Homo sapiens: one gene and its partners. The protein of the gene in region 4 interacts with the protein of the main gene of each other region in a pairwise test. Each region holds a gene or a part of one and is shown on either strand. Other genes may lie near its edges. The genes, in order: SPRY4, ZDHHC20, EPS8L2 and CTSD.

Region 1 (7,302 bases), on a different chromosome or scaffold from region 4:
CTGGGGAACCTTCTTGAGGGCCTCAGGCTGTGCCCCCCTCCTCTGCTCTCTGTACTTTGTATGCACTGCTGATGTTAACTGTAATTAAGTGATTCTTTGATCAACTATTTGTTTAATGTCTATCTCCCGAACTTGACTATAAATGGTAGGAGTCCAGAATTTCTACACAGGTGGAAGGAAATAATCTGTTTGGGTAGGGGGGCCTTTGCTTCCATTGCATAATACTTACTAAGGTTGAGAAATGTCAACTGAACACAGAAACGAATGGGGGTTCTGATGGAGATTGTAGGAAGAAAACACATGCCATCCTCACCTCTCCATGCCCTCCCTGTGGCATCACCACTGTCTATAAGCCCTATAAGAGCAAAAATTGTGTCTGTCCCTTTTCTCACTATAACTGTTAACAGCTGGCACTATGCCTGAAACATAAGAAGTGTGTCACAAAAATAGCACGCAAAAAAACAATTTTTTGTGGAATAAATAAAATTTTAAAATGGAGCCTTGCACTTCTGGTCTGCAAAAGAGGGGTGACACAATCAAGACCCATTTTTTTTTTTTTTTTTTAGACGGAGTCTCGCTCTGTCACCCAGGCTGGAGTGCAGTGGCGCGATCCCGGCTCACTGCAAGCTCCGCCCCTCCAGGTTTAAGCAATTCTCCGTCTCAGCCTCTGGAGTAGCTGGGATTACAGGCGCATGCCGCCACGCCCGGCTAATTTTTTTGTATTTTTAGTACAGACGGGGTTTCACCATCTTGGCCAGGCTGGTCTTGAACTCCTGACCTTGTGATCCACCCACCTCAGCCTCCCAAAGTGCTGGGATTACAGGCGTGAGCCACCGCACCCAGCCAAAGACCCAGCTTTTTGAAACAATTTTACATATGAAAACATGCTGCACATACAACTGGCATACAGTAAGTGCTCCAGAAGTGACTGTCATTGAATTGGAATTCCTGCCTCTCCTCAATCCCACTAACTCCAGGTCCTAGCAAGCCTAGGAGATTAATAAAAGAACAAAGCTCAAAACTGAACCTACTCTACTCCCCTGGCCACAATCTGGTGGGAGTGACGCTGTTTTTATTGGAATCAGGGTAAAAGATTGTCATTAGCCCTGGCAGGAATGCAAGGTTGTTAGGATGTGCCTCTAGCAGGAAAGTTATACCTGGGGAAGACATCGAGTAGCTTTGGAATGAACAGAGTCAGATGAAGCAGAAAAACAAATCCAGCACAGACCTACCGGCCACCCAATCCTAAAGAAGGAACATGATGTCTTCACCCTGCAATGGAGCAAATGCTCTGCATTCCCCAACCACCTTTCGTTCTGTCCCCTCACCCCCTAAACTGTGGCCCCAGGGCTGCTGGAGAGGTTTAAAACACAAATCAGAATGTGTCAGACCTTGCTTAAAATCCTTAATGGGATGACATCTGAATTCCTCACCAGGCTCACTTCAAACTTGCTCATAAAGCTGTGGCCACAGAGGCCTTCTGTCAGTGCCTCTAATATGCCAGGCTTTTCCCACACACGGCCTCCACCCATGCTCCCTCTGCCTGAGATGTTTCTCCAGTCCTCCCTCAGATTCACTTCTCAGTCTTTGGGTCTCAACTCACAACTAGAAGCCGCCCTCTCAGAGACATTCCCTGATGACCAAATCAGAATCAGCTCCTTCCACCATCCCCCACCTCCCCGGCAAGCAACATACCCCAGAGAAAGCTCATTTCCCTCCTAGCACTTAGAACCTCATGTTGCAGCCTGTCTGTCTGTCTTTTCAAAAGACTGTGAGCTTCACAAGGGCAGGGAGGGCTGTCTGTCCCTCACCACTGAGTCTCCAGAGTCAGGGCAGGCCCCACTACAGAATCGATCAATGAATGAGTGAATGAGTGAATGAATGAATGAATGAATGAATGAATTTTTCATAACTGCTGCTCCAAACCATTCCTCAGCTTAGGTTCCAAGCACAACCAGAATATGACCTCCAGAGCCCTTCTAGACGCTCTGAATCTCGCTGTACTTAAGCATCAGAGGCCCCTCCCAGCTCAAGACTGGGAGCTCCTCCTTCTCCCCACCACAGGCTGGGGTCTCCTCGCATTCTCTTTCAGGGAAGCTGAGAAAGACTATGAAATGTAATCCTGTCTGTCTCCTGAGTTTCTCTAATAAAGAAAACAGGATAGCAACCCCCCTCCCCGCGGCTCCTCCAATCCTCCTTTTCTGCCATAGATTTAAGATTTATTTATTCCCATCCTTCTGACTGTTTCAGCAAGGGCCATGGGTGAGCACCAGCTGGAAAATTACTGCTTCAACTTTCATTGTTTAAAATGCTTAAATGACATGCGAGAAACAGGTTTTTAGGTCTGTGATGCTGAGAAGGGTTGGTAGCAAAGTAAAGCCAGGTTGCAAAGACCTAGAAAATAAGTGCTACAATTTACCAGCTCTTCCATATACCCGGTGCAGGACCCTTGGCCTCAGTTTCTACAGCTGACAGAGAGGGCGATACTGAACTTCAACAGCCTTAAAAGGAAGTCCTGGACAACTGTACCCATTTTTCTGGCGAAGAGTTCTCTTGGTCTTAGAGAAAGGTCTCGCCCCTGAAAGGAAGGCTGAGGTTCCCTAGGGGAGAGTCTGCTCTGCCCTCAGGAGCTGGGTAAGTACACGGAGGGGTGAGCCGAATGGTGAGAAGGCATTTTAGGCTAGGACTCGGTGACCTTGGGCTGCCTGCCTCTAGAGTCCCAGCCCCAGCCCTAGGCCAGACCTCAGCCCTGGGCTGGGAGCCTTTCATTGGTTCCTCTGACAACAGCCAAGCACAATCCTATAGTGGCGTAGGAAGAAAAAGACTGCCACACAATCTCCCCGTGCGGCCAGAACAGCGGCAAGACAGACCTTACAAGGGACTCAGGGCCAAGCCCTGGCCCAGACTCTGCTCTTATCCACGCATCAAAGCCACCCCCCGCCCCGGACTTCCCGGAGGCTACAGGCTCCTCCGTTCCAGGGAGGAGCAGGGCCTGCTGCGAGGGCTCCCCGCCTTCCTGGAGTCAGGCCTAATGGCGGGGGCTTTTCTTTTCACCGGCTTGAGCTGATCCTCACCCCCGCCCCCCAACGCCACCATCATTAACAGCGAAGAAAGGATCCCCAGCCATTTCCATTTCCTCTGCGGCTCAAGAGCCCCGTTGTTATTTAATCCTGAGGCCACCCCGGCAGCATCCTCGGCGCAGCCGGCTCCACCCATCCACCTGGCCAGTTCTCGGCCGCTCCCACTTCCCCGGAGGGGAGGCCGGTGAGAGGTGGGGGATATTGGGGAAAGGCGCCTACAACAGCGAAGGGCCGTGGGCCTTCGGTGGACCGAGGCTCCTCAGGCCAGCGTCCTGTGAGGGCTGGGAAACCGACTGGGACAGAGAAAGGACACCTAGCTAGGGCGACAGAGAGCGGGCAGACGCCCGGGCACTGCGGACATTGCACTGGGGCGGGGGGCGGGGGGAACGCTGGGAGGCGAGGGCCAGGCTTCCTCTGGCTGAGTTGCCAGAATCGCCCCGGGGGGTACTGGAGCCGGAAGAGGCCTGGGCCCAGTCACTGTCTACACCCAAGAAATGGGGGGAGGGGCGGCCAGCACTCACGAGAGATTCAGCCTCAGGAAAAAGAACCAGATTCACTCACCAATCCTCACCCCACCCTTTGATATGAATGATGGACATTTTCCTAATTTTTGGTAAACGCAGCTTCAAGACCCCTCCCGCCTGGCGTCTCTGGTCTAGAGCAAGAGAAGGCCCCCAGTAGGGGTCCTCCCGCCCCCCCTTTTGACTGCCTGCGGGGGGCAGAGATCCCCAGATCTAGGTGTGCCCTCCACCACCCTGCTCTCAACCCGGGATCCGGAGGCCGCAGCGTCCCCCACCCCCCAGCGACACTGACGGTTCCTGCCCAGGCCCGCAGTGGCGTGAAGGTGGCCTTTACCTCCTCTCGCAGGCTGGGAGGGGGTGCAGCCCGCGCAGCTGGCCCAGCTGCAGCAGTCGCCGCCGCCCTCCATTCATTAAAAAAAAAAAAAAAAAGGCAACAACAGCCTCCACTGGAACCTCCACCCCTCTTTGTAAAAGAACGACGGCTCCTGGTGGAGCTTGAGCCAGTCCCAGCAATCACGGGTTAAGATCTTTTCCCGCCCCCCATTCATAAAAAAAGGAGCGGAGCGCATGCGCGCTCAGGGTCTGTTGTGCCCACCCATTCATAGAATCGCGAACGGCACGCGTGCGCACTGGCGCTCCCTTCCCTCCCATTCATAAAAAAGCCATTTTCCCAGGCAGTGGTTGCAACATCGCCGCGGAGGTAGCGAGCTGAGCTGACAGCGCGGAGCTGGCGCTGTGGAGCGCAGGGAGCCTTGCCGGTTCCTCCGACCGGCGTCTGCGAGTACAGCGGCGGCTAACCTGCCCCGGCTTCAGGATTTACACAGACGTGGGGCGATGCTTGTGACCCTGCAGCTCCTCAAAGTAAGTCCATGGCTGGTTTGGAGATCTGAAACTGCCCCTCTCTGAGCCGCGACGCGACTCCCCCCTTGGGCTGGGGCAAATGGTGCGCTATTTCTAGGCGCGCCTCAGTGTTCCTTCCCTCAGCCTGCGCCTCCTTGAGTCGCTGCGGTGCGCCGCAGCTCCCTGACGCCCTCGGCCCGGCCGGCACGGCGCCGGGGGTGTTCACAGCCTGGCACCGCCGTTTCCGACCCCTGGGCATTGCCAAGCCCGGCTTCCCCGCCCTCTGAGACTCGGGAAGCCCCGTGCGTGTCCCGGGAGTTTGCCTCTGGCCTGGCCTCTTTCCTTCTCCTGCCACCATCCGCCTCGAACGCTGGAACGGGCGTCTCTGGGCTTGGTCAGGAGCCACCGTTTGGGTCGGGGGGCGCCCTCGCTCTGGGCGGCTCGCCCACCTCCCAGCTCGGTGCCCACGGTGCCAGCTTTGCCGTGTATCTCCCAGCCCGCCGTAGCGGCCTATGCTCGACGTAGATTTTTTCTTTCTCTTCGGAGCCGTGACGGACTGAATTCCCTCCCCTTCTGCCTCTCCCTCGATGGTCAGCGAGGGGCTGGCTCAGGACTGGGCATTCCTACTCCCTCTCCTTGGCGAGGCGGTTCCTCGCCGTCTGACCTTTGCTCCGCTGCCGCATTTTATGCTATGCAACTGCCTTGCAGTTGACTTTTTCTTGCCTGGCCTCTGTAAGGCCTGAGGCTCCTCGGCCACCCTGTACCTCCCTATCCTCGGGCACCGAGCTGTGCCAGGCCCCGGAGCCCCCAGGCCGCGCTAGGGCTGCGGTGGGGGTTGAAGGTGCGTTTACATAACACCAGGCGTGTGGGAGCTGGAGGAAGAGGTTGCGAATGTAGGAGAGATAAGGCTCCTGCTTTCCCTCCTTCCTTCTTGGTGGTACCAGGCTTGACATCACAGAGAAGAGGATAGAGACGGTATGTTCTGACAAATTCTGAATCGCCAAGACCCCGGGGACAGTGAGCTGGGTGAGGGCGGGTTTGGCTAGCCAGGGCAGCTAGAGCTTGGCTCCATCACTGGGTCCAGGGCTGTGCCCAGTTCCCCCTCCATGCAGACGATCAAAAAGCATTTAGACAGTAGCTGCTCTTGTGCAAGAAGACGGTTTCTCAATTCTCCTTGATTGGGGGCAGGGGGTTGTGGGCAGGAGAGGCAGGGGAGACAGAAAATGGTTGCGTGGCTTATAGGGCTGAAGGATGGGCAAGAGAGGCGAAATGGGCTGGAGGGGCTAGATGGTAGGCAGAGTAGGGAGCTGCTGGCTGCCTCTTTCACCAGCTGCTGGAGGGGCATCCATATTGCCAAGGCCTCTGTGAGGGCAGGAGGCCGCCTTCTGGCGCAGCAAGGCTTCCGTACCCCCCAGCGCGGTTAGTGCTGGAAAGAAGAGTGTACAGTGGGGTGCCCAAACCTAGTGGCATCCCCTTCTTTCCTGCCTCCAAATCAGTGGCGTGATTCTCTCCAGTTTTGGGAGAGGCCAGACACACTGGAGGCCAAAGAACTTGCAGAGGGGCGGGAGCAAGCACTCGTCTGTGTCTGTAGCTGACCGAGGCACTAACCTCCCTGACAAGTCTCTCGGGATTCAAAGCTGGAAGGTATAAGGCTCAGAGAAGTTGGGAACTGCGGGTTTATCAATCTCTTAATGAGCTCAGTCTGGCCTGAGGCCCTACCCAATATTGCACTGGTGGATTTCACAATGTTTGGAGTTCTCCAGATCTTCACACAAATGGAGCATAAACATCTCTGAAATTTTCAGCCTTTTTTTTTTTTTTTTTAGGGCGGGTGTCAGGAGAGCTAGGAGAGGCAGGGCTGCAGTTAAAGATTTCTCTTTCTCTCTCCCTCTCTGTCTCCCAGAAGGGTGGGAAAGAACTAGTGGAGATGTCCAGTGTGAAATCACATTTCCTCTTTCCCATCTCTTGGGAGGGTTCTCACGTGCTGCGAGGCTCCAGCAAATCCTAATGTGGTGAACAGCACACACACTTACCAACCACGCCATGTGGCCAGTACGGGTGTAGGGTGGGGATTTTAGTAGCAGATTTCTGAAATCTTCATGGACAAATATTGGTCAGTTACAGTGAGCAGACTTTAAAGGCATCTGTTGGTTATCAGGAGTCACTCCCTTTCAGTGGAGTGTAAATGCCCTCTTGCCCTTAGCCCTCCTGCCCAGCTCCATGACCTTTTCCAGATCACCCTCTGAAATGGCCTCATCTCACTGAAGCTTTAGTTGGGGGCTGGTGGGAGGAGACAGAACACATAGTAGGGCAGAGGCTGTGGACAGGTGGACATTTGGAGCTTACGGATGTCGTTTTCATTTATATATATATATATATATTTTTTTTTTTTCTTGAGACGAGTCTTGCTCTGTGACCCAGGCTGGAGTGCAGTTGCGCGATCTTGGCTCACTGCAACCTCCGCCTCCCAGGTTCAAATGATGCTCCTGCCTCAGCCTCCCAAGTAGCTGGAATTACAGGTGTGTGCCACCACACCCAGCTAATTTTTGTATTTTTAGTAGAGACAGGGTTTCACCATGTTGGCTAGGCTGGTCTCGAACTCCTAAGCTCATGATCCGCCGGCCTCTGCCTCCCCTGGGATTACAGGCGTGAGCCACCACGCCCGGCCTCATATGTCATTTTTATCTGCATCCTCCCAGAATTGGCGGAGAGATGTGGCTCTTTGGAAATCTGTCCTGCCCAGTTCGCACCCACCCATGACCCCAGCCCCAACTTTGGTAAACCAGAGGTTTGGCTGACTTTCGTGAATAATAAATGAAAGCAGCCTTTCAGTGCCAAATTTGAAAATCAGTGATATAAAA
Region 2 (7,019 bases), on a different chromosome or scaffold from region 4:
GAAGGAGATGACAAAATAATGGTTAACAATATTTTCCAAATTTGATTAAAGCTCTAAAACCAGAGATCCAAAAAGCTCAACTAATACCAAGCACAAGAAACTAGAAAACTAGATCAAGATATACCATAATCAAATTGCATGAAGTAGTGATAGTCTTAAAAGTAGCCATAGAAAAAACATATATAGACTAACAAAAATAAGAGTTATCACAATTTCTTATTAGAAAAATGCAACCCAGAAGCATAACATTTAGCAACATCTAAAATTTTTTGTTTTGTTTTTGAGAGACAGTCTTGCTCTGTTGCCCAGGCTGCAATGTGTTGGCACCATCTCAGCTCACTGCAACCTCTGTCTCCCAGGTTCAAGCGATTCTTGTGCCTCAGCCTCCCGAGTAGCTGGGACTACAGGTGTGCGCCACCACACCCAGTTAATTTTTGTATTTTTAGTAGAGACCGGGTTTCACCATGTTGGCCAGGCTGGTCTTGAACTCCTGGCCCCAAGTGATTCACCTGCCTCGGCCTCCCAAAGTGCTGGGATTACAGGCATGACCCACTGTGTCTGGCTAATATCTAGAATTTTATACCAAGCAAAAATGTCTTTAAAAAATGAAAGCAAATAAGTCATTTTCAGACCAAAAAAAGGCAATTCAGTTAATCTAGGGAAAAAACCCATAACTCTTACAAATATGTCACTCAATCTTCAAATATTTTTCCCTTCTTTTTGATGACTTTGGTATATAGCTGGCCTAAAAAGGATGGAAACTGGAAAGAAATGGAAACTATCAATCATCTCAAGAATATACTCTCATTTACATTTGGGGTAAAATTGCAGTATGTGGTTGGTCTTCTTTGATTTAGGACACAACAGAATACACAATTCATTTCTGTGATAGGATCTTTGAAGTTGTGGCTAATAACTATAAATTTTTATAATTCTTTACTTCAAACAAGTTATTTGCATTTTGAAGAAAAAATCTTATTTTTTTAGTGAATCATCTTTTTCTTCTACTTCCCATTCAAATATATAAACTCTCCTTAACCTTATCTAATTAAAAAATGAAAAATAAAATATTTTATGTATAAAAAAAGATATTTTGAGTTTTCATTCTCAAAGTCTGTGAGAATATCATTATATATTATATTCTCTAAATCTGAAGACATTTAACCAGAAAAAGAGACTACCACAGATGCCATAATCTCTGAGACCCACATTTTATAAATTACCTTGAAAATATTGGAAGTAGCCAATATTTCTTTTCATCACCAAAGACTTGTCTCCAATTTTTACTGCATCCAAGAGAGAAACCATTTCCATCAGGTCCGTATGAAAACGTGGGTGCGCGGAATGATTCTGTTAAATATACATACATATATAAACTAATTAATCTATTTAAAAATTATAGGAGGGATGGAAATTACCAATTTTCTTGCTTATATCTTTGACACAAAAACTGTAAATATAATTTAAAATAAATAATACATTAGTAGCAATTAAAAGATAAATTTATGAAACTTATTTTGGGAAAAAATAGCACATTTAATATTTCATCAACCTTATAAAGTAACATGTCAAAATAATTATCAAATATTACTGAAAATCTAGTATTGTGTGCTCAGTATCTCTTGGCTTTTTTTTTCTACAAGATATTCTAACTCCTGCAACTTCACTCATTATTTATGAATTTCCTACTATGTTCCTGATAGCACTGTACCAGGTATTTGGGATTCAAAGATAAATTAGATAAAATTCCTACCAAAGAACCTAGAGTCTAGCAAAAATTACAGTGTTATAAGTGCTAACATGGCCATGACGTACTGGGAGCACAGAGGTGAAGGAAGCTAATTTTGTCTCGATAGAGACATATGTGTGCCTCGGGGGTGCTTGTAGGGAAAGGTGAGCAAGCTGAGGATGACTAGACCATTATTTCAAGCTTGGTTGTTAAGTGATGTAGAGTGAGGTCTGGAGAAAGATACAGGCTTCACAAAAAATGTTTTTTAATTTAAAAACAAGGCACTTCAGTGTGTTTTATAAGCTAAGGATAAGAACCCAGGGCATTGGGAGGGATTGCTGATATAAAAAAGTAAAATAAAAACTGAAGAAAGGGATCCTAGAAGAGATGGGAAGGAGTCTAGAAAAGTTGTAAAGGTTAACCTTGAATACCAGAAAAGACATCTTTCTTCCTCAGAAGTTAGAGGAAGGTGAGAGTGATGGGTGTGAAACAAGAAATGTTTGTATGAGGCTATAAAGATGTGAAGATGAGAGTTTACTTGTGACTCCTTCTAATTTTTCTACTAGGAACTCATAAAATGGGTAAGGAGAGTGGGAGAATTATGAAAATCTGGAATAACCATCTTGGGTAACAGGTGAGGGACCTGACCAGAAACATGTGACATTACTGCCAAACAGAGCTAAGGCCCTCCATGAGGCCTAACATCTTAAATCTGTAGCTATAGCAAACCTTATGGAGTAAGACATCCTTCTACAGCTTTCAACAGCCCCACTGTGCACGCGGATAGAGGATGGCTGGATAACCAGAGCCATGAATTAGCAAAGGAATAATGGGAGAAAGTCTAGGCACCAAAGATGTAAGGAGCTGTTTTTGTCAAGAGCTGTTAAAGTCATTTATCATAGGATCTAGAATGGACATGGGTGAGAAATAAAACCAGAAGGGAAAGAAAAACTTAGGAGAAAATTGTTGGAGAATAGAAGACTCAGGAAGTACATCAGAATACAGCAAATAGAGAATAACATATTCAAGTTTAAAATTTCATTTTCAGGGGCTCTTCAGTTCTAAGCGATTAAAAAACTCAGAATCAAAGGGACTAGCTTGCTTGTTCAGGATAATGGCATTAGCTTAAATGTAGGAACTCACTAAATGAGGGTAAACGATCTCAAGGTGGGTAGGTGACAGTTATGAAGAAGACAGAGGTGATACAGCAGAATAAGACACCCTCAAAAGACCCAAGAACAAACATCTGAATCAGTGGAGAACTAGCTAAAGACCAGGGCTGTGGGAGATGAAGCTGTTAGAAAGTGGTGTGCTAAGCAATGTTTTTTCAAAGTGTGGGTTAAAACACCTTAACAGACCACATAATCAACTGAGTGACTTGCAACCCGCATTTCCTTTTAAGAAACTAGAAAAGAAAATATCAGAATATACTGCATATAGTAGAGATTAAAAAGGTTTTGTGAAACTTTTGCTTGTTTTATTTATATAATTTTATAAATATTTGTGCATGTTCTAAGTCATGATATGAAATGCTGCATTTCTTACTGTGGCCACCGGCAAAAAAAAGTTTGAAAAAGATTGTTCAAGAGAATAGCAGGTTCCCTAGAAATGCCAATCTCTCACATACCTACGGGGGCTGGGCAGGAAACAAAGAAGGCACGACTGGCAAGACCTGCAGCAAATGACAGTGTCCACACCCTATCTAAATCCATGCCCTATCTTGGGCAGTCCACCACTGCTTAGCTCCATTTCACTGACGCCAAGTGGGAAAACGGGCCTACTACCACTAGATTGATCAGTTTTGAAAAGAAGAAATCTGGTTTTCTTTGTGAAATCACTCACATAGATTTTATTGGTTGGGGAGAACTTAAGGGCTGGACTTTGCCTGTAGGCTGCCTTTTTATCATTTTCAATTAAAGGTAAAGAGATGGCATAATATTCTATAAAGATGACAAAAAAAAGTAGTTAATAGGGATAAGAAATTTTATTTACATGGAAAAGGGATGAAAGCATGATGGAACTGGAAGAGAAGGAACAAATCCTCACACTGGAAGCCCACCATAACTTACAACACAGCTCAGTAACACAACGTTAAAATGATCCAATAACTAAAGCATCTACATGTCTCACCCCAAATCCCTTAATTTTTCTGTAATTAAAAACTGTTTCCCTCCAACTTACCTGGCAGATATATGGCTGCAGATTGCAGGTGGATTTTAACTTTTTTACAAAACACTACCGTAAAAATCCTTATTTTGTGTCTTGGTTATGTTAGCAGATACATGAATATTTCAATGATAACATAGCAGTACTTCTTACATGTCAATAGCTCAGTGAGCAATGCCACCATTGCTGTTTAGGGAATGTTTGTCCAATTACGTGAATACCTTACTTTTCCCCCTATATTTTCATTTTTTAAAATGAGCAAACAAAAAGAGAAATAAATGTTAATACTAGTGACACAATACGTAAGTCTCACTGACAACTGACACAAATATGGAAATAATGAGGCATGTCAAAAGCACTATTCCTTAGCCTCAGTCATGGAACATATGCCAGTTAAATGTGTTTAACTGTGGGGGAAAAAAGTAAAGAATATATATGGGCTGGGCAAGGTGACTTGCATCTGTAATCCTAGCATTTTGGGAGGCCGAAGTGGGAGGATCACTCAAGCCCAGGAGTTTGAGACAGGCCTGGGCAACGTAGCAAGACCCCATCTCCATAAGAAATAAATAAATTAGCTGGGTGTGGTAGTGCACACCTGTAGACCCAGCTACTTGGGAGGCTGAGGTGGGAACACTGCTTAAGTCCAGGAGGTCAAGGCTGCAGTGAGCTGTGATGGTACTACTGCACTCTAGCCAGAGCAAGAGTGAGACTCTGTCTCAAAAAAAAGAAAAAAAAAAAAGAATATACATGAAATACATTGTTATGTTTTAGCTAAAAGATAAGCTGTAATTGAGGATATAAAGGTTTTCTTATTTGAGAACAAACTTCCTTAAAGCATGTAAATCTACTGTCTATCCCTTATAGATTAATTTTTTTTTTTTTGAGATAGGGTCTTACTCTCATTGCCCAGGCTGGAGTGCAATGGTGCAATTTTGGCTCACTGCAGCTAGTTTTGTTTTGTATTTTTAGTAAAGACAGGGTTTCTCCATGTTGCCCAGGCTGGTCTCGAACTCCTGCACTCAAGTAATCCATCCATCTTGGCCTCCCAAAGTGCTGGGATTACAGGTGTGAGCCACTGTGCCCTGCCTCTTATAGATTAATTTTTGAAACGACACTGTATGAATGCAGGAAAGTTTTCATTTATTAAAATTTATAAAATAGTTCTCCACTTTTATATATAACACATTACTGAAAATGTGTTAAAAAGTCAATCTCATTTCCTCAACCTTCTCCAAAATAATGAACCTTTATTATAAAACCATTGTTCCCATCCAGTCACAATTAATTTTACTACAGAATTATTTTATTATTTTTATTTTTTAGAGACTGGGTCTCCCTATGTTGTCTAGGGTGTCCTCCAGGGCTCAGGGGATTCTCCCGCCTCTGTCTCTGCAGTAGCTGGGATTATTAGGCACGTGCCACCAATTCCAGAGTCAGAATTGTCTTACACTTCTGTATCATCTGACCCTTGTTCTTCTCTAGATTTCATATTTATTTATGGTCATTGTCCTAAGTAATTATAATTTATTTTAACCTACTTACCTATTGTTGTTCTATTTTTTCCAACTAGCCAGCAGTGGTAGCTGAAAAGTGAGAGGACGCTGATGAAGAACATTGCAGACACAAAGAAAAGAAAAAGTACGTGGAATTTTGCACGTGTATCTGTCAGTTCATTCTGAGGAAAAAAAGAAGTTAATTTTGAGGTCAACCTCTAAAATATAACTTACAAGTTAGTTCTGTCTAAAGATTGTTGAATATATCAAAATACTTGCCATATTTGAAAACTAATAAATTACTTAATATATCCCAATGCAACAAGGGCAAAAGCAAAGAATTGGTATTACCAAAGCAACCTGCTTATCTAGGAGTTCAGGAAGAGTTATTTAAAATACTGCTCTTAAATTTTTTTTAATTTTAGCTTGGCATGGTGGTGCATACCTGTAATCCCAGCTATTGGGGAGACTGAGACAAGAGGGTCACTGAGCCTAGGAGTTCTAGGCCATCCTGGGCAACACAGTGAGACCCTGTCTCATAAAAAAAAAAAAAAAACAATAGCAATACTTCCAGTAATAAAGTGAAAAGATCGACTCTTCTACCCAACAAATTTTCTTTTGTACTTTATGTATATATTCAAGCTTTCTCCAACATCCGACATATATAAGCTCCCCATATCTATACAAAAATATTTGCTTATTTTATTTAGATTTGCTGCTAACTAAAAACTAATTGTGAAATATTTTTGGACTTCTTTAATCTCTATTTTCAGACCACCTTACCCATGCCTTCAGCTGCTTCAATTCCTACTTTTTTCATCTGTATGTCTACAGAGCCTTTGTGCATAGTTAGCAATTTTGATAAATAAATTTACCACAGGTATTAATGAATGAAAACAGCTTCTCTGGTATCCCTTCTTATGGCTATATACATTTTAACAGAAGCAAACTAGAGCCTAGAAGAAATTAGTACCTTTAATAGAAGGAGGCAGCCTTTAAATGTTAGCTCTTAAAATAAACCATATAGGCAAAGCATCTACTCCACCAGAACACGAGGCTGTTCTGCTTGATTTAAAAAGTATTACAGACTAAAAGAAGACTATTAGCATTAGGTTATTGTGACATTGATCTTTTTCTCTTTTCTTCCAGAGTAACCAACATGTTTCAAATGTTTCAAACATATCAAGTGAGTCTTCTGACCATTTTGTGAAGCAAATTTTTATTAAACATATTCACTATAAATGTCACAAAGATCATGAGAATGTCATGGTAATGATGTATTTTACCTTTGGACAACTCTCTGTAGACTTCCTGCGGCAAAGCTTGTGCAAATAGAGACATATATTAAGAAACCAATTTTTATGCAAAATTATCCTAAACACTAGTTTTATAAATCCTGTTGAAAGAACACTAAGATGTTGCTTTCTAATGGCCATCTATAACATTTTCTCAAGAAATACAAAAGAAAAAATAGACAAGAACATGTAGCTGTTCAAGCACATTTCTTTTCTTTTTTCTTTTTTTTTTTTTTTAAAGATACAAGGTCTTGGCTGGGCACGGTGGCTCACACCTGTAATCCCAGTACTTTGGGAGGCGGAGACAGGCGGATCACTTGAGGTTGAGTTTGAGAC
Region 3 (7,928 bases), 1.1 Mb from region 4:
CCCCTCCTCCCAAGTAGCTGGGATTACAGGCACCTGCCACCACGCCCAGCTAATTTTGTTTTGTTTTGTTTTGTTTTTTTTTGGTAGAGACGAGACAAGGTTTCTTTTTTTTTTTTTTTTTTTTTTGAGACAGAGTCTCGCTCTGTCGCCCAGGCTGGAGTGCAGTGGCGTGAACTTGGCTCACTGCAAGCTCCGCCTCCCGGGTTCACGCCAGTCTCCTGTCTCAGCCTCCCGAGTAACTGGGACTACAGGTGCCCGCCACCACGCCCGGCTCATTTTTGTATTTTTAGTAGAGATGGGGTTTCACCATGTTAGCCAGGATGGTTTCCATCTCCTGACCTCCTGATCCGCCCACCTCGGCCTCCCAAAGTGCTGGGATTACAGGCGTGAGCCACCGCGCCCGGCCGGAGACAGGGTTTCGCTATGTTACCCTGGTTGGTCTTGAACTCTTGGGCTCAAGCAATCTGCCCACCTTGGCCTCCCAAAGTGCCTGGCCTCACTCCCCTTTTTTTAACCACACAATTTGTTCAAGGGTATGTTCTTGTACAAGATTCAAGGGGTGCAGAAGTAAAACATGGAAATTCGCCCTCCCCAGAGCTCACCTCTGTGGCCAGCGGGGTGCAGACTTCCAGCCCTCTGCGTGCTCATGGTCGTAACATGTGCACCTAAACACACGTGTTTGTGAAACATTGTCCTGCCGTGGGGAACGCAATGGGCACTTCCAGGGCGCTGTGCCCCTGCCAGGCTGGAATCTTGGGCCCCTCTTGTTCACATACAGATACACCCCTGATGCCTGATGTCCAGTGAGGAACCAAGGCTGCGGGGAAGGGTGGCCCCCACCCTTCCTCTTGTTATCAGGCCTCAGACACACTAGGAGGATGGAGGCGAGTTCTCTCAGCTGCCCATCCCACTGAGGGGTGCCCGGCCGTCAGTGTCTTGTCTGCACTTACGTCCCAGAACCTCTAGAGCTTGCCCCCCAGGGCGGGCACTGCTGGGAGGGTGCGAGCACCGCTGCGGCACAGAGGCCCGGTTCTTGGCTGATCTTCTGGGGCCTGGGCCTGCCCTGAGGTGGTGGGGACAGGGTGTGGCCTGGCCCTGCTGGGGGCTGCTAGGCCAACGGGACCCTCCCCAAGCGCGCCGCACACTGCAGGGTCTCCAGGCACCTGGGCTCAGCTAGTGACTGACCCATTTGTTTGCTAAATACGCAGTTTTGTTTTTAATACATACTCGTGAAATTTTCCAGAACTGGCCTTGGACCAGAGAAAAATACTTTGGGAATTTTTCAAAAAAATCCCTTCAGTTCCACTTGGAATTAGGAAAACGTGGCAGATGCACTTGAATCATTTTAGAAACCAAATTCACCCCCGCCCACACAGCCGACCCAGAAGACCCAGAGACAGATCAAACCATGCTGTTGCAGGGGCACCTCCCCCAGGAGGGGCTCACGCCTGTGTTGCCCATGCTCTCTGGCTCTCCTGAGTTCTGGGTGGCCATGGAGGCTGTTTCCCTGGAATTCCCCAGGCCCCGGAGGAACGTAGGGCAAGGAGCTGCTCTGGTCCCAGCAGCCCTCCAGGCACCTGTGGGCGGTGGGCTCCAGGGAGCGCCTCGCACCACCTTCCCTCCCCTTTGCTCTGTTCTCCAGGCACCAGGGGCAACCTGACAGAGGCTGAGAGGCCGCTGGCCGCCAGCCTGGCCCTCACGGCTGGCACCGCCCTCCTCTCTGCCCACTTCCTGCTTTGGCAGGCCCTAGTGTTGTGGGCGGACTGGGCCCTCAGCGCCACGCTCCTGGCCCTTCACGGCCTGGAGGCCGTCCTGCAGGTGGTTGCCATCGCGGCCTTCACCAGGTAGCTACGGACACCCGGGATACCCCACACTGGGGCCCTCCTCCTGGGCCTGACCAGTCCCCCAGCTGTCACCTCCCCATTCCTGGACAGGAAGGGCACTTTTCCTAGTGACTGGCCATAGATGGTTTTGGATGGTTCCATCTGTTCTGGCAGGAGTGGGAGCAGGAGCCAGGGCAGAACAAACTGCTGGAGGCCCTGGTGTTGGGAACAGCTGCGGGGAGGGTAGGGACCAGACAGAACTGCCTTCAAGATGAGTCCCAGGAGCGCACACTCAGCCCTGTCAGTGGGGTCTGGCTTTAGCAGCCAGGCCTCCACAGACCCCCATGGGCCCCCAGGGCCGAGAGGGAGGACAGAGCCCTTCAGAACAGAGGCCTCATCTCACTGCATCCCCCATCACCCCCTAGTTCCCCAATGGTCCTAATTTGTGTTCTGAGATCCCAGTTTACTCCGTGGCCAGGCCCCACCTGTGTTTCCAAGTCGGGCTGGAGACGCAGGATGGGGTAGGCCTTGTGCTCTGAGCAACCCCAGCTCTGCCTCACAGGCAGGCAGGCCCGGTGCAAGAGTGGACTCTGGGTTCCTAAAGCAATAAATGCAAACAAGCCAACAGCTCTGCTGCCTAGCAATTTCCATCTTAGCCACACTTCTCCCTTCAGGGGCTTCGGAGGAGAGGTCAGGGCTAAGGCCGGGGATGAGACTGCAGGAGAGAGAGCAGCGGAGGGCCACATTCGGAGCCTCCGTCCACTCCAGTTTTATCAGCTTTTGCCTTTTGCACGGAGTGCTAAACAAATTCTAGCTCTGTGTTTTTTTCCCATTCCCAGATTTACTATCAGTTCTCCTTAAAAAGTATCTAAGCTGTTACAGTAGCTTTCCCTTCACTTGATTCTATTGTGTGTTTTCTATGTTTGGAATAATTACACCCAAATATCTAGATATTTTCTCTTCACCGCATTTTGTAAATAAAGAGATGTGTATGCCTCCCTGAATTCTCCTAATTATGGCCACCTCCCCCACCCCATCTCCAGTTCTCCTGCCCTGCAAGAGAGCACACCCCACTTGCCAGCTGGTCAGTTCCTGGCTGGCCTCGCCCTCGGGCCCTGGCTGCCGGGCGCCTTCCGCTCGGTGGACTCCTGAGGGCAGGAGGCTGCGGGACTGTCCTGGGCCTCCACTGGGGCTCCCTCGGCTGGGGTGGCTGTGGCTGTGGCACCTGGACAGTCTTTCCTGCCTGTCTTCGTGGAAGCGGTGGGAGCACCCAGTTGTCCTGGGCCGACTTCCTTTGACCTGTCTGTGGCCCCCAGTGGCCACGGTGAGCTGCAGGACAGCCCTGAGGACCCACTTCACACACCAGCGCCTGAGCGCCTCGGGCCACCTCCCTCACCAGCGCCTGCACTCGCAGAAGACCAGCTGGGCACACCTGCCATCTGGAGGACCCAGCCCACAAACCATGCAGACCAGGGAAGGACCCCCTCCCTGAAGCTGGAGACCTGTTGCCTTCATGGTTAATGGATCCTGATACCTCCAGTCTCAGCGAGCACACAAAGGCAGTGGTCACCTGTTCCACAGGGAACGCCATGGCTCCAGGTGACCCGGAGTGGATGGGGCCCGAGAGGCCAGCCTGGACTGTCTCCTGAGGGCAGGCTCCGCACTCAAAATCGTGTTGACAGGCACCCGTTTAGGAGTGGAGAGGGACCCCACCCCCCAGCTGTCCTCTCCAGCGCCTGTTTCCCACTTGGCCACTCCCAGCTCTGCCTCCAGGAAGGGTGAGGGCACGGGTGCACCGAGGGGTTGGCGTGTGTGACCCTGAGCTCTGGGTCAGGGCAAGCTCATGCATGGAGCAGGATCACGGCAGGTTCCTGGAGATCAAACGGCAAAGGCTGTAAACCAGGAAGCCAGGTCTTGCCTGGGCTCAGGGGCAGGCACTGGGCCCGAAGGAGGAGGGCCACTTCCTGCCAGCCCTCCACCGAGCTCACCTATGGCGCCTCCCCAGGAAGTGCTCCGGCCAGCCCAGGGTAAACACGCTAGCCCTGCCCCTCTGGGACCATAGCCCGGGGACCCAGACTCTTGGCCACGCTCATTCCCACCCCTACCCAGGACCGGCAGCCGGAGCCTTGGGTCCCTGCATGGGCCTGGGGCGCCCTGTGCCCCTTCACCTCGTCCTCGTCCAGTTGACTGCTGTGGCAGCCGGTGCTACCCGCTGTGTCCACTGCACCCTGGCCCTGTTCTGAGCGGTCACAGCAGCTGGGGAGAAGGGCCATCCTGGAAGCCGGGCAGATGAGGACGGAACCAGACAGTCCCACTGTGGTGGGCAGAGGTGGGGCCTGGGCCTGACCACGGGGCAGTGCAAGGAGAGAGGCATCCTGAGAGGGCCTGAGGTGTCCCCACCTCCCCTGACACCCCATCCCTCAGTGCCCAGGCTGGGCAGAAAGGGGGGCCTGGAGGAGCAGCTGCACTGTGAACTCAGGGCTCCAGGCCTGGGGTGGGCATGGCTGGGTCCTGCCTGACACCCACCCACTCACCGAAGCCTCTGCCCCTGGGCCTGCGGTGGGCCCGGTAAGGGAAGTGACTCTGCCCCATGCCTGGGGCACCTGAGGGGTGCACCTGGCCCGGCGGAGGCTCTGACCTCCCCAGGGCTGGAGCCCTCCCCAGCAATGCGCCAGCGCTGCCCCCGAAGTCCCATTGGCAGCGTTCCCCCGTCCCCCGGCCTGCTGGGGCGCAGCTAGGCCCTGCCCAAGGAAGAGCTCGAGGCCTCGCCCTGCTCATCCCGCGGAGGCGGCCCTGCGCCCCGCCTGTCCCCAGCGCCCCAGCTCTAGGGGCTAGGCCCGCGGAGGGGCACACCAGGCGGGTGTTGGGGAGGACGCAGAGGGCTGGGGCTGGAGCCCAGGCGGGGCAGGGGGCGGGGCGGAGCTGGGTCCGAGGCCGGCGGGGGCGCCTCCATCCCACGCCCTCCTCCCCCGCGCGCCCGCCCGCTCTCGGGTGACTCCGCAACCTGTCGCTCAGGTTCCTCCTCTCCCGGCCCCGCCCCGGCCCGGCCCCGCCGAGCGTCCCACCCGCCCGCGGGAGACCTGGCGCCCCGGCCGAGGCGCGAACAGACGGACGCACCGGCGAGCGCCGAGGGGACAGGCCGAGCGCGGGGCGCCGGAGGCAGGTGAGCGCTGCGGACACGGGGGAGCGCGCCCGCCCGGGCCTCAGTTTACCCGGTGGCGATGGGACGCGGGGCTTCTGGTTCAGGACACCGGGACGAACGCGGCGTCGCAGGGCGCGGGGCACTTGGAGGGCGGCCGGGCCGAGGGCGCGGGGCAAGGGGCTGGGGGCCTGGTCGAGTCCCCACCTCTCCTGGACGGGTCCTGCTGCAGCCCGGCCTGCCCCCGTCGGTCCTGGGCGGCGGCCGGCGAGCAAGGATATTTTTAAGCCAGCGATGGGTGACTCACCTGCCCCGTCCTGCCCACTCCCAGCTCTGGGGCTTGGTGGGGGCAATCCCTGCGTCCGGAGAGCGCTGGTGGTAGGGAGGCTTCTCCCGGTTCTGTGAGCAGCAGGACCCTCCCGAGGGCCTGACCGTGGAGGTAGCACTGCACACCCACTCCCTGTGGGCCGGAGCCAGGAGGCACTTCCTGGGTGTCGGAGCCCAGAAGGAAACCAGTGGCCGGGAAGCACCAGCTGGGTCAGTCTCCAGGTCAGGGTTGGGGGTGGGAGTTTCAGGGAGGAGGGGAGGCTGGGACAGGGGCTGCAGAGGCCCTGCCAGGAGAGGCAGGAGGGTGGGCTGGCAGGAGCCTGTGGGCACGCGAACTTCAGCCATCCTAGATTCCTGGTCCCTGCGTCCAGCTGCCTGGCGTTGCCCCTTGCTGCGGGGTGTCCCTGGTGGCAGGGGAGGGGGAGGCAGGGCCGGGCATGCCCGGACCTCTGCCCCCACCCACCCCGTGCTCAGTCCTGGGTCGGCTGTGCTGGGAGGCAGGCCCAGCTGGCGGCGGCCCCTCCCCTCGCGGCCCCTCCTCCCCTCGCGGCCCCTCCTGGGTCCCAGCCTCTCCCGGGCCTGCTTAGCACCCAGGCCTTGTTGGCATAGCTCTCCCACCGGGCCTTCTCCGCCTGCCTCGGTCTCCTTTCCCACCCTCAGCTTCCCCAGCTTATCCCTTCCTCCCTCAAGCCATAGCTTCCAAACAAGGACAGGGCCAGGGCCTGAGGGGCCTCCCCATTCCAGGGCCCCACCCAGCGCCTATGAGGGCAGCCTGGAGCCCCTGTGACTCAGCTGACCCCTCCCCAAGGTCACTCAGCATGTGGAGCTGGAACTTGAACTTGGAGCCCGTCCCTCTACCCTCCTGCCCTGCTGGGACCTCCTCCCCTCCACAGCCCGACTGACCGGGCACCCCGCTCTGCCTCACTTCACACCGGGAAAATGACCACAGTACAAAGTGCAGCCTGGGCCTCCAGGGCTTCGTCCCCACCACCAGTGGGCCAAAGAAGCCTCCCCAGGGGGGCGGGGCTCCCACAGGGCAGGAGGCAGCCCCATACCCATGTGCTTCAGACCCAGACACCACACCTGGACCCACCCCACTGCTGCCCGGCCCTGCCTGGGCCTGAGGTCCCCGATGCCCTGCAGGCAACCGAAGGCCAGGAACCTGGCCTTCCCCAGGGGGGTCGCGTGTCACAGCCCTCCATGTTTGCGTGCCCCCAGGCCTGAGTCTGCAAGGGTGCGTTGGTGTCTCGCCCAGGTGTGTGCCTGGACACACGTGCCTGGCGCCCTTGGTGGAGCCCGCCAGGAATCCCATTAAGCAAACACTCAGGCTCGCCACTGAGCCCGTGAACATTCCAGACATTCTCCACGGATAGATGGATGGAGGAAGTGGCCATACCCCCTGGTGCACCCAGCCCCTCATGTCAGCGGCAGTGCCCCCGGGCCTCCCAGACCCTCCCACTAGGCCAGACCTGGTCAAACCAGAAAGTCCCGGGTGCTCCGAGCCACTCCCTTGACCCTCCATACCAACAGCAGTGGCTGGTGACCCCCACCGTGGCAGACCCAAACTCTGAAGCCACAGGGGACAGCCCTGCAGCCCTGGCAGGAGGCAGATGGTGTGGACCTGTGGGGAGCTGATCACAGAGCCACAGAACAGCCAGGTCCCCACAGGGCATAGTCCCCTTGGGACAAGTCAGCCTGGTTCAGGGCCATCAGGCTCTGTCCATCCCCCCGGGAAGCCCCTAGGGTCCAGCCCAAATCAGACCCACCTGTCTGCCCTGGCGGCTGGGCCTTAGTTTCCCCAAAATGCTCGGGGAAGAGGTCAGCACTAGGAGCCCAGAGACAGGCTCTGAGGATTCTGCCCCTGGGGGAGGCCAGAGGCACCTGCCCCATAGCCACCCTACCTCGTTGGAGGGGCAGTGATACTGTGTGTTGGGGCCACTGGACTGGCTCCCAGTCTCAGCCCCCACCACACCTGCCCTCCAGTCCCTCCCCTAGGCTTGGCTGCTGCCAGGGGTTCTGCGCTGGCCACCTGGCCGCATCCCTGCCCTCGAGGTGAGGAAACACTGCACCCCGGGGACCCCAGGGTTTCCTGCCCGCACAGCCTCTTCCCTGCCAGGTCTCCCAGGCCCAGGAAAGAGCCAAGGGCCAGCCTCTTTGCTGGGGCCTGGACAGAGGTGGCATGTGTGGGTGGCAAGTCCACATGTGGGTGCAGGAGCCCCTTGGGGTGCAGGCCTGGGGTGGGGCAGGAGTGGCGGCTAGAGCCGGGCTCCCTCTGGACTTCAGGACCTACCCCAACTCCAGCCTCACCTCTCCTGCCATCCTGCAGCTCCCACCCGCCCTCCCCCAACCCCCACCGCACCCCCCTCCCCCCACACTCCCACCTCATCCCCCTCCCCTTACCCATCCCACCCCCCTCCCCACAGCACCAGGGCCTTAAACTCCATGCTGCCCAGCTTGGAAGGCGCCTTCTGCCCCCAGGGCCCTTGTCAGAGCCTCCCAGTCAGCCTCTGGGGGGTCCCTGTGGAGCACCTAGGGTCTGAGGCATGACGAGGCTGATCGACTGTCAACTGGGACGTGGGGCCAACTGGGACGTGGGGCCAACTGGGATGTCGGGCAGGGGCTCTGCCCCCCAAGGGACC
Region 4 (7,019 bases):
CAGCCCCTCCCCATCTTCTTCCTCTCGCAACAGCCCCTCCTGTGCCCACTACTCCTTCAGGGGGAAGCAGGATCCAAGGTGGAGCACTCTGGAAGCCACCTAGCAAGCTGGGGCTTGGTCAGCCTGGTCCCAGCTCTATGGGGTCAGTTCGAGGCCAGGGCCTACTGTCCAGCCTCGGGGCTCTGGCCCACTGTGGGGGAGCCTTGCCCTCTGTCCTGCTTGGCCCGAGTCCTGGCTGTGACAGGAAGCCCAAGACTCACAGGCATGTGACTGGGCCAGGGGGGCCCTGGGGGGAACCAGGCGCCGTGTGCCTGGTCCCGACTGGCCAGTTCCTGATTGTCCTAGCGCGCGAGCAAGCAGATGCACGCATGCGCACACATGCACACACACACATGGAAATTTGCTGAGTGTCCCCCTGCCAGTGGTCACTTCTGTGGGGCCATGAGTCAGCAGCTGCTGCTGCTCCGTGAAGCCAGGCGGTTGGAGAAACATTGGGCTGGGCTGGTGCCAGGAATCTGGTGGCTGACGGTGGCCCAGGCTCCAATCCTGGGGGAAGCGGGCGCCCAGGCGACCCCAAACTCCAGGACCCTCTTACTCTCTGCCTCCTGAGAGGCTCGGCGGCATGGGACCCCTTGTACTTGCCTGATCCCTGAGTCAGCACCCCCACCTGCGCCTGCTATCCCTGTGTACACACGGGGAAACTGAGGCCCTGGGCCATTAAGGCAGGGTTGCTGGGCAGGCAGTGATTGTAAGGCTTACCTTCTCCCCTTGACCAGCTGAACCCCTCTGCCTGGAAGCCCTCCAAGCCTGGGGTTCACCCTGGAGGGCAGGGCAGGCACTGAGACACCCAGAATCAGACCTTGACATGGCCCCAACCTGGGGAGGAAGTCACTTCCTTTCTCAGACCTTGGACTGCGGGCCACCAGGGGAGTCTTCCAGGCCGGGCTTTCCTGCACCCGGGGCTCAGGCTGAGGGCCACGTCTGTCCCCACCCTGGCTTGACCTCTGGCCTTGTCTTTTCCGTGGGGAAGTCCTCAGCCTCACCATGTATTGAGCAGGGGTAGGTGACAGAAGCCAGGGGTCTAGAGACCCCAAGTACCCGTGGGCATTAGGACCGAGGGCTGGGGACCTGGCCCATCTTCCCTGCAGGCTGAGCAGGTGGGAGTGGGTGGCTGTTGGCAGCTGTGGGCCCCGTGATGCCCCTCCCTCCAGTATGGGCCTTGGCTCTGGGGACAGCCGGGCCTTCTGAGGCCCAGTGGGGAGATGGGGCCCCCTCTCCCATCCCTGACGGACCCTGTCCCCTGCCAGGCCCAGTACTACGGGGAGATTGGCATCGGGACGCCCCCCCAGTGCTTCACAGTCGTCTTCGACACGGGCTCCTCCAACCTGTGGGTCCCCTCCATCCACTGCAAACTGCTGGACATCGCTTGCTGTGAGTCACGAACCCTGGCCCCGTCGCCCAGGTCCTGCCCTTCCGGGATGTCGCTGCAGGGCTGCCTCAGGAATCACTTGGGCAACGCAATTCTCCTGCCTCTTGGCCCCGTGAGCCAGGCCAGCCCTCCACCCTGCTCCAGCCACTGACTTTCTGGGTGAACCACCAGCTGTGGTCTTGCTCTCAGCAGGGCTGGGGCTGGGGTGGCCACAGAGGGAGCCGGCTGTGGCTGGGAGGGAGGCCCGGGGTCACAGCCCACAGTCCCGGGGCTCTGGCATGATGGTGGGCCTCAGATCCCCTCCAAATCCCACCCTGGGGAGGCAGCTTGGGGGGTGCGGGCTCCATGGTAGATTGTAGGGGGATGGGAGGGCTAAGGCCGTGGCGTGGGCTGCGGGATGACCGGCGGGCCCCCTTGTCGCCCGGGGCAGGGATCCACCACAAGTACAACAGCGACAAGTCCAGCACCTACGTGAAGAATGGTACCTCGTTTGACATCCACTATGGCTCGGGCAGCCTCTCCGGGTACCTGAGCCAGGACACTGTGTCGGTGAGTCCCTCTGGGGCCTTTCCCAGGACTCGAGGGTGCCAGGGTGTGGGGTTCACCCACCGTGGGTATGTGGTTGAAAGGGAGGGCTCGGTGATCCCAGCCCAACCCCAGCCCTCAGGTGGCCGGGGCAGTCAGCAGGGTGAGGAGGGGTCTGGGAATGGGCCTGGTTGTGTGCAGGCTGGAGGGACAGCCTCAAACCCAGGGGGTACAGGGGCAGGGGTCCCCGGAGTCAGGCCACAATGAGTGGGAGGGAGGACAGGGCAGATCGATCGGGCTCTTTTTGGCACATTGGGTTTGAGGTGCCAGCAGGTGTTGAGGGCTGGACCTGGGGCTGCACAGGGTCCCTGCAGCAGGCCGAGGGCTTGGGGAGGCTTGGGGTTGGGAGGATGTACCAGGAACCCGCTGTGGGGGCTGCTGGCGGAGAGTCACCGGCAGGAGCCTGGGAGGGCAAGGGAGGGGGAGCAGCAGTGGCTGTTGGGGGCCCCGCCTGCATCCACCATCCTCAGGGCCCTGTGCAGAGCAACTCCCTGCCCTAGGAGAGGGTGAGCTGGCCCTTGTCACCCTGCCTGGGCCTCAGTGAGTTCTCACCTCGGAGCTGTCTGCTGGGGGTGGACCAGGCCACAAGGGGTTCAGGAGTTACGGGATGGTGACACAGCCCCCAGCTCTGGAGCGGGCCAGGAGGGCAGCAGAGCCCCCCTGCAGGCCCAGGGACCCGGGAAGAGGGCCCCTTCCTCCAGCTGAAGCTGCTCCTAACAGTTCCCTGCTGGGCTGGAGTCCAGTCTGTACTGGGGGCTCCTCAGAGCCCTCCTGTCTGGACCCTGCTCAGCCTGAACAGGAAATTGCCCCGTCTGCCCTCTTCCGCCCTCTTCTGCCCCCTCCGCCCCGTGTCAGCCTCAAGCTGTCGTTCCCTTCCCACATCCTGCTCTGGCCGTGTTCTCTCTCTGCAGCCTCATCCAGGGCTGGGGGAGGGGACAGGCAGAGAAGGGGAAGGGGGCAGTATGGCTGTGAGCTTGGGATGGGGTCGGCAGGTTCCCCATCTCTCGGGCTCCTGGCCCAGGCTGTGTCTTGTTCCCAGCGCTGAGGGCAGGAGCAGGACCTGCCTGTCATTGGTGGTGGGAGTAAGAGGTCGGAGCAGGGAGCGGAGCAAGGGGCCTGCCCGTCTGTGCTCCTGCCTGGTTCCCATCTCGTGTAAACCGAGCCCTGATGACTTCCACGAAGAGGGCCCCGCCATACCCCGTGTCCCCATCCCCAGCGGTGTTCAGCTCAGGGTTTCCAGCCCTTTCTTCTGGGCCCTCTGGGCCCCATCGTGTGTGGGATGGGCATCCATTGAACTGGGTTTTGTAGCCTCATGCTCAGGGAGTGGTGTAGGGCTCAGCCTGTCTGCTGCCCACTGACTCTGCCCTGGCCTGCAGGTGCCCTGCCAGTCAGCGTCGTCAGCCTCTGCCCTGGGCGGTGTCAAAGTGGAGAGGCAGGTCTTTGGGGAGGCCACCAAGCAGCCAGGCATCACCTTCATCGCAGCCAAGTTCGATGGCATCCTGGGCATGGCCTACCCCCGCATCTCCGTCAACAACGTGCTGCCCGTCTTCGACAACCTGATGCAGCAGAAGCTGGTGGACCAGAACATCTTCTCCTTCTACCTGAGCAGGTGGGCGTGTGGGTTCCCTCTCGCTCCGCGTTGCTGGGAGGCAGGGCGGGGCTGGACGGGGAGCCTTCTAGGCACCCCCTCTCAGTGCTGCCCCCTCCCTGCTGCTGTGCCAGAGCTCCTGACCTCTGACCTCAGGGCATCCGGGAGGCGGGGGTTGGCCGCCCTTCTGCAGAGGAGTAAGCGGCAGCACAGAGAAAGCTGTTTGGCCGGGGTCTCCCAGTGGGAGGGGCTCGGGCCAGGCTGTGGGTCCTGGGACCTTGGCAGCTGGGCCTCCCTCCTATGAGAATGGACCCAGGTCAGGGGTCGTGGCAGTTCCTCTTGGTTCAGTCGGCCCGTCGGTCCCCAGACCTGGTGATGGGCACATGTGGTCCTGGTCCCGGGGTTGCTGATGGTGGAGAGGGTCATGGTGCCCAGGGGACCGGGGATCCCCGGGGAGGTGACCTTGGGTGCGTATGGGTCCCCGGCACCACGCTGCGAGCAGCTCTGTGGGCGTCCCCAGCAGGTGCCGGCTGCCCTCGAGGAGGAACATAGGGGGCCCTTCCTTCTGGGAAAAGGGTTCTCCCCCAGGGCCCCCACCTGCAGCCGCTGCTCCAGCTTGGGTGACCCATGGTCAGGTGACCTTGGGAAGGGGACGTCGGACTCAGTTAGTTTCCTCTTCTCGGGGCAGACCTGAGTGGAGGGTTCCACATAAGAGGGGTGACTGGGGGTTGGGGGCTTTTGTTTTGGGGGTGGGCAGCGTGTCAGCCGGCGGCCTCCTGCCCTGAGCTGCGCCTGGTCACTGCCCCACACTCTCCAGGGCTGACAGGGGCAGGTTTACCTCACGTGGCTCACTTGGCACTTGGAGTCTCTGGGCCTGACCCCTAACCTTGGATCGCTTCCGGCAGAATTCCGGCTGTAGGGCTGGCTGGGCCTCTTTGCTCTGCCCCTTGCCTGGGCAGTGAATACTCCTTAGCAACACCCAGGGCTAAGCTGCTCACTAGAGGCCAGGACACAGGTGAACCGGCTGGGCCATTTCCCCAGGAGCCTTGGGGCACAGGGGAGGCAGCCAGGTGAAAAGGGGTCCCCTGAGGGCAAGAGGGCATGCAGGCATGAGTGCCCACATGGGGAGGGGGCACACAGCCTGAGTACCCAGGTCAGGGAGGGGGACACAGGCATGAATGCCCATGTGGGGGAGGGGCACACAGCATGAGTGCCCATGTGGGGGAGGGGCACACGGTATGAGTACCCAGGTCGGGGGAGGCATACACAGGCATGAGTGCCAGGTGGAAGGAGGGGCACACAGAGTGAGTGCCCAGGTGGGGGAGGTGCACATGGTTGTGAGTGCCCAGGTGTAGTCTCAAGGCAGCAGCTTGGGCAGGAAGTGGAGCCAGGCAGGAGGGAGGGTCTGAGGGCTTCTGAAAGCATGTTTGGTGAGGAGAGGAGGGGTGGGAGGCGCTGATCAGGTTTCTACACTTGGGATTGCAGAGGTGTTGACAAGAGGCAAAGGCGGAGGAGGCTGGAGGAGGGCGGAGGCCCCAATCGGTGTTGGGAGGACTGGGTCAGGCCTGGCACTGCCTCGAGTGACAGGCAGTGGGATGGTGGCCAGCTTAGCTGCAGACGCTCTGGCGGGATGGCAGAACCGCCCCAGACACAGAGAGCTTCTCTACCAGGACCGGCAGGATTTGCTGCGTTGAAAGCTGTACTTGAGCAATGTTTAGAAACAAACCCGGGCGACATGGGTTGCAGGTCCTAGGAAGTGCAGTGCGCTCCTGCCCAGGAGCACCTTGGCTGGCCATCAGTGGTCTGGATGAGGGGGAGATGAGCGGACGTGGCTCGGGGATGCAGGTGGAGGGTGTTCCCAGGAGCAGCCAGTGCAGAGGCCCTGCGGCCAGAACCAGCCATCCCAACTTCCCAGATTGTGCCATCACTCCCTCCTGGAAGCCTTCTTTGGTTTTTTCTTCCAGACAGACAGACAGGGTCCTCCCCAGTGGAGCTCCTGGCACTCACTTCCTTGTCTGCCGCTAGCCTTGACCCTGATGTCTGGCTGAACCTTGGCTCCTGAGCAGACCAGGAGAACCTGAGGGTTGAGGAAAACCTCTTCTGGGCCAGGCTGGGCCCACGCAGAGCAGCCCTACCCCGGGAAGAAGGGAGTCTGTCCCTCCTCCTGCCTTCTGGGCCTTTCCATCCCTGCAGTTTCAGAAAGGCCCCTCCTTCAGGAAGCTCTCCCTGATTGCCACATTCACCCTCTTACTCCTGACCTGGCACTCTTGTGCTTGGGGGGTGGCGTGGCAGCTGACTCCTCCCTTTTCCTCCTAGGGACCCAGATGCGCAGCCTGGGGGTGAGCTGATGCTGGGTGGCACAGACTCCAAGTATTACAAGGGTTCTCTGTCCTACCTGAATGTCACCCGCAAGGCCTACTGGCAGGTCCACCTGGACCAGTGAGTAGTGGCTGCAGTCGGCTCCCCTGGGTTCTGTGGGCGGGGGCGGTGTGCGGAGACCCTGGAGGACCCCGGTTCTGCAGGTGGGGGTTGCATGTGGGGAGTAGTGGGAGCTGGGCAAGAAAGAGATGGGGTCAGACCAGCCCTCCATGCCCCTCCTTGCCCCTCCATGCTCCCCATCACCTCCATCCCCTCTATTCCCTCTATCCCTCCATCCCTCCATTTCCTCCATGCCTCTGTGACTCTCCATGACCCACCATCCCTTCTGTCCATCCCTCCATGCCCTCCATCCCCTCCATCCCCTCATCCCTCTGTGACTCTTCATGACCCTCCATCTCCTCCATCCCTCCATCCCCTCCATCCCTCCATCCCTCCATCCCCTCCATCCCTCCATCCCTCCATCCCCACATCCCTCTGTGACTCTCCATGACCCTCCATCCCCTCCATCTGTCTATCCCTCCATCCCTCCATCCCTCCATGCCCCTCCATCCCTTCATCCCCTCCATCCCCTCCATCCCTCTATGCCCCTCCATCCCCTCCATCCCTCCATGCCCCTCACCACCACCTGAGGGTCTCCCACCCCCTCTACCACTCTGTGTCTCCTCTCCCACCCTCTTCCCTGGAGGGCTTACAGCCGGCTGTGCTTCCAGGAGCCCTGAGGGGAGGAGAGTGCAGCCCAGCCAGGGGAGGGGCTCCCAGGGAGGGGCACTGGGCCCCCAGGGCACACTCCAGTCCCGGCAGGGGCTTCACGCCCTGACTCCCCGCAGGGTGGAGGTGGCCAGCGGGCTGACCCTGTGCAAGGAGGGCTGTGAGGCCATTGTGGACACAGGCACTTCCCTCATGGTGGGCCCGGTGGATGAGGTGCGCGAGCTGCAGAAGGCCATCGGGGCCGTGCCGCTGATTCAGGGCGAGGTGAGCGCCGGGGGCTGGGGCTGGGGCTGGGGCTGGCAGGGGGAGCCCCAAGGCCACCACTACCAC

What was found.
Region 1: the proteins of CTSD (region 4) and SPRY4 interact in binary tests that used the Homo sapiens proteins (3 or more experiments, as listed by UniProt).
Region 2: the proteins of CTSD (region 4) and ZDHHC20 interact in binary tests that used the Homo sapiens proteins (3 or more experiments, as listed by UniProt).
Region 3: the proteins of CTSD (region 4) and EPS8L2 interact in binary tests that used the Homo sapiens proteins (3 or more experiments, as listed by UniProt).

What each region holds. Positions count from the first base shown.
Region 1 is NC_000005.10:142,322,004-142,329,305, reverse strand, and holds the start of SPRY4 (protein sprouty homolog 4), read left to right. Parts: upstream 1-4,284; 5' UTR 4,285-4,462; intron 4,463-5,058; exon of another isoform or gene 5,059-5,416; intron 5,417-7,302. UniProt on the Homo sapiens protein: Suppresses the insulin receptor and EGFR-transduced MAPK signaling pathway, but does not inhibit MAPK activation by a constitutively active mutant Ras. Probably impairs the formation of GTP-Ras.
Region 2 is NC_000013.11:21,386,285-21,393,303, forward strand, and holds part of ZDHHC20 (palmitoyltransferase ZDHHC20), read right to left. Parts: intron 6,891-7,019; exon of another isoform or gene 6,825-6,890; coding exon of another isoform or gene 6,675-6,824; intron 6,640-6,674; exon of another isoform or gene 6,538-6,639; intron 5,571-6,537; coding exon 5,438-5,570; intron 4,130-5,437; exon of another isoform or gene 3,911-4,129; intron 1,351-3,910; coding exon 1,224-1,350; intron 1-1,223. UniProt on the Homo sapiens protein: Palmitoyltransferase that could catalyze the addition of palmitate onto various protein substrates.
Region 3 is NC_000011.10:701,303-709,230, forward strand, and holds the start of EPS8L2 (epidermal growth factor receptor kinase substrate 8-like protein 2), read left to right. Parts: upstream 1-4,928; 5' UTR 4,929-4,986; intron 4,987-5,269; exon of another isoform or gene 5,270-5,781; intron 5,782-7,928. Other genes in the region: TMEM80 (transmembrane protein 80), read left to right, coding at 1,643-1,844, 2,498-2,684. UniProt on the Homo sapiens protein: Stimulates guanine exchange activity of SOS1. May play a role in membrane ruffling and remodeling of the actin cytoskeleton. In the cochlea, is required for stereocilia maintenance in adult hair cells.
Region 4 is NC_000011.10:1,753,928-1,760,946, reverse strand, and holds part of CTSD (cathepsin D preproprotein), read left to right. Parts: exon of another isoform or gene 1-599; intron 600-1,307; coding exon 1,308-1,431; intron 1,432-1,859; coding exon 1,860-1,978; intron 1,979-3,390; coding exon 3,391-3,623; intron 3,624-5,918; coding exon 5,919-6,041; intron 6,042-6,808; coding exon 6,809-6,953; intron 6,954-7,019. UniProt on the Homo sapiens protein: Acid protease active in intracellular protein breakdown. Plays a role in APP processing following cleavage and activation by ADAM30 which leads to APP degradation.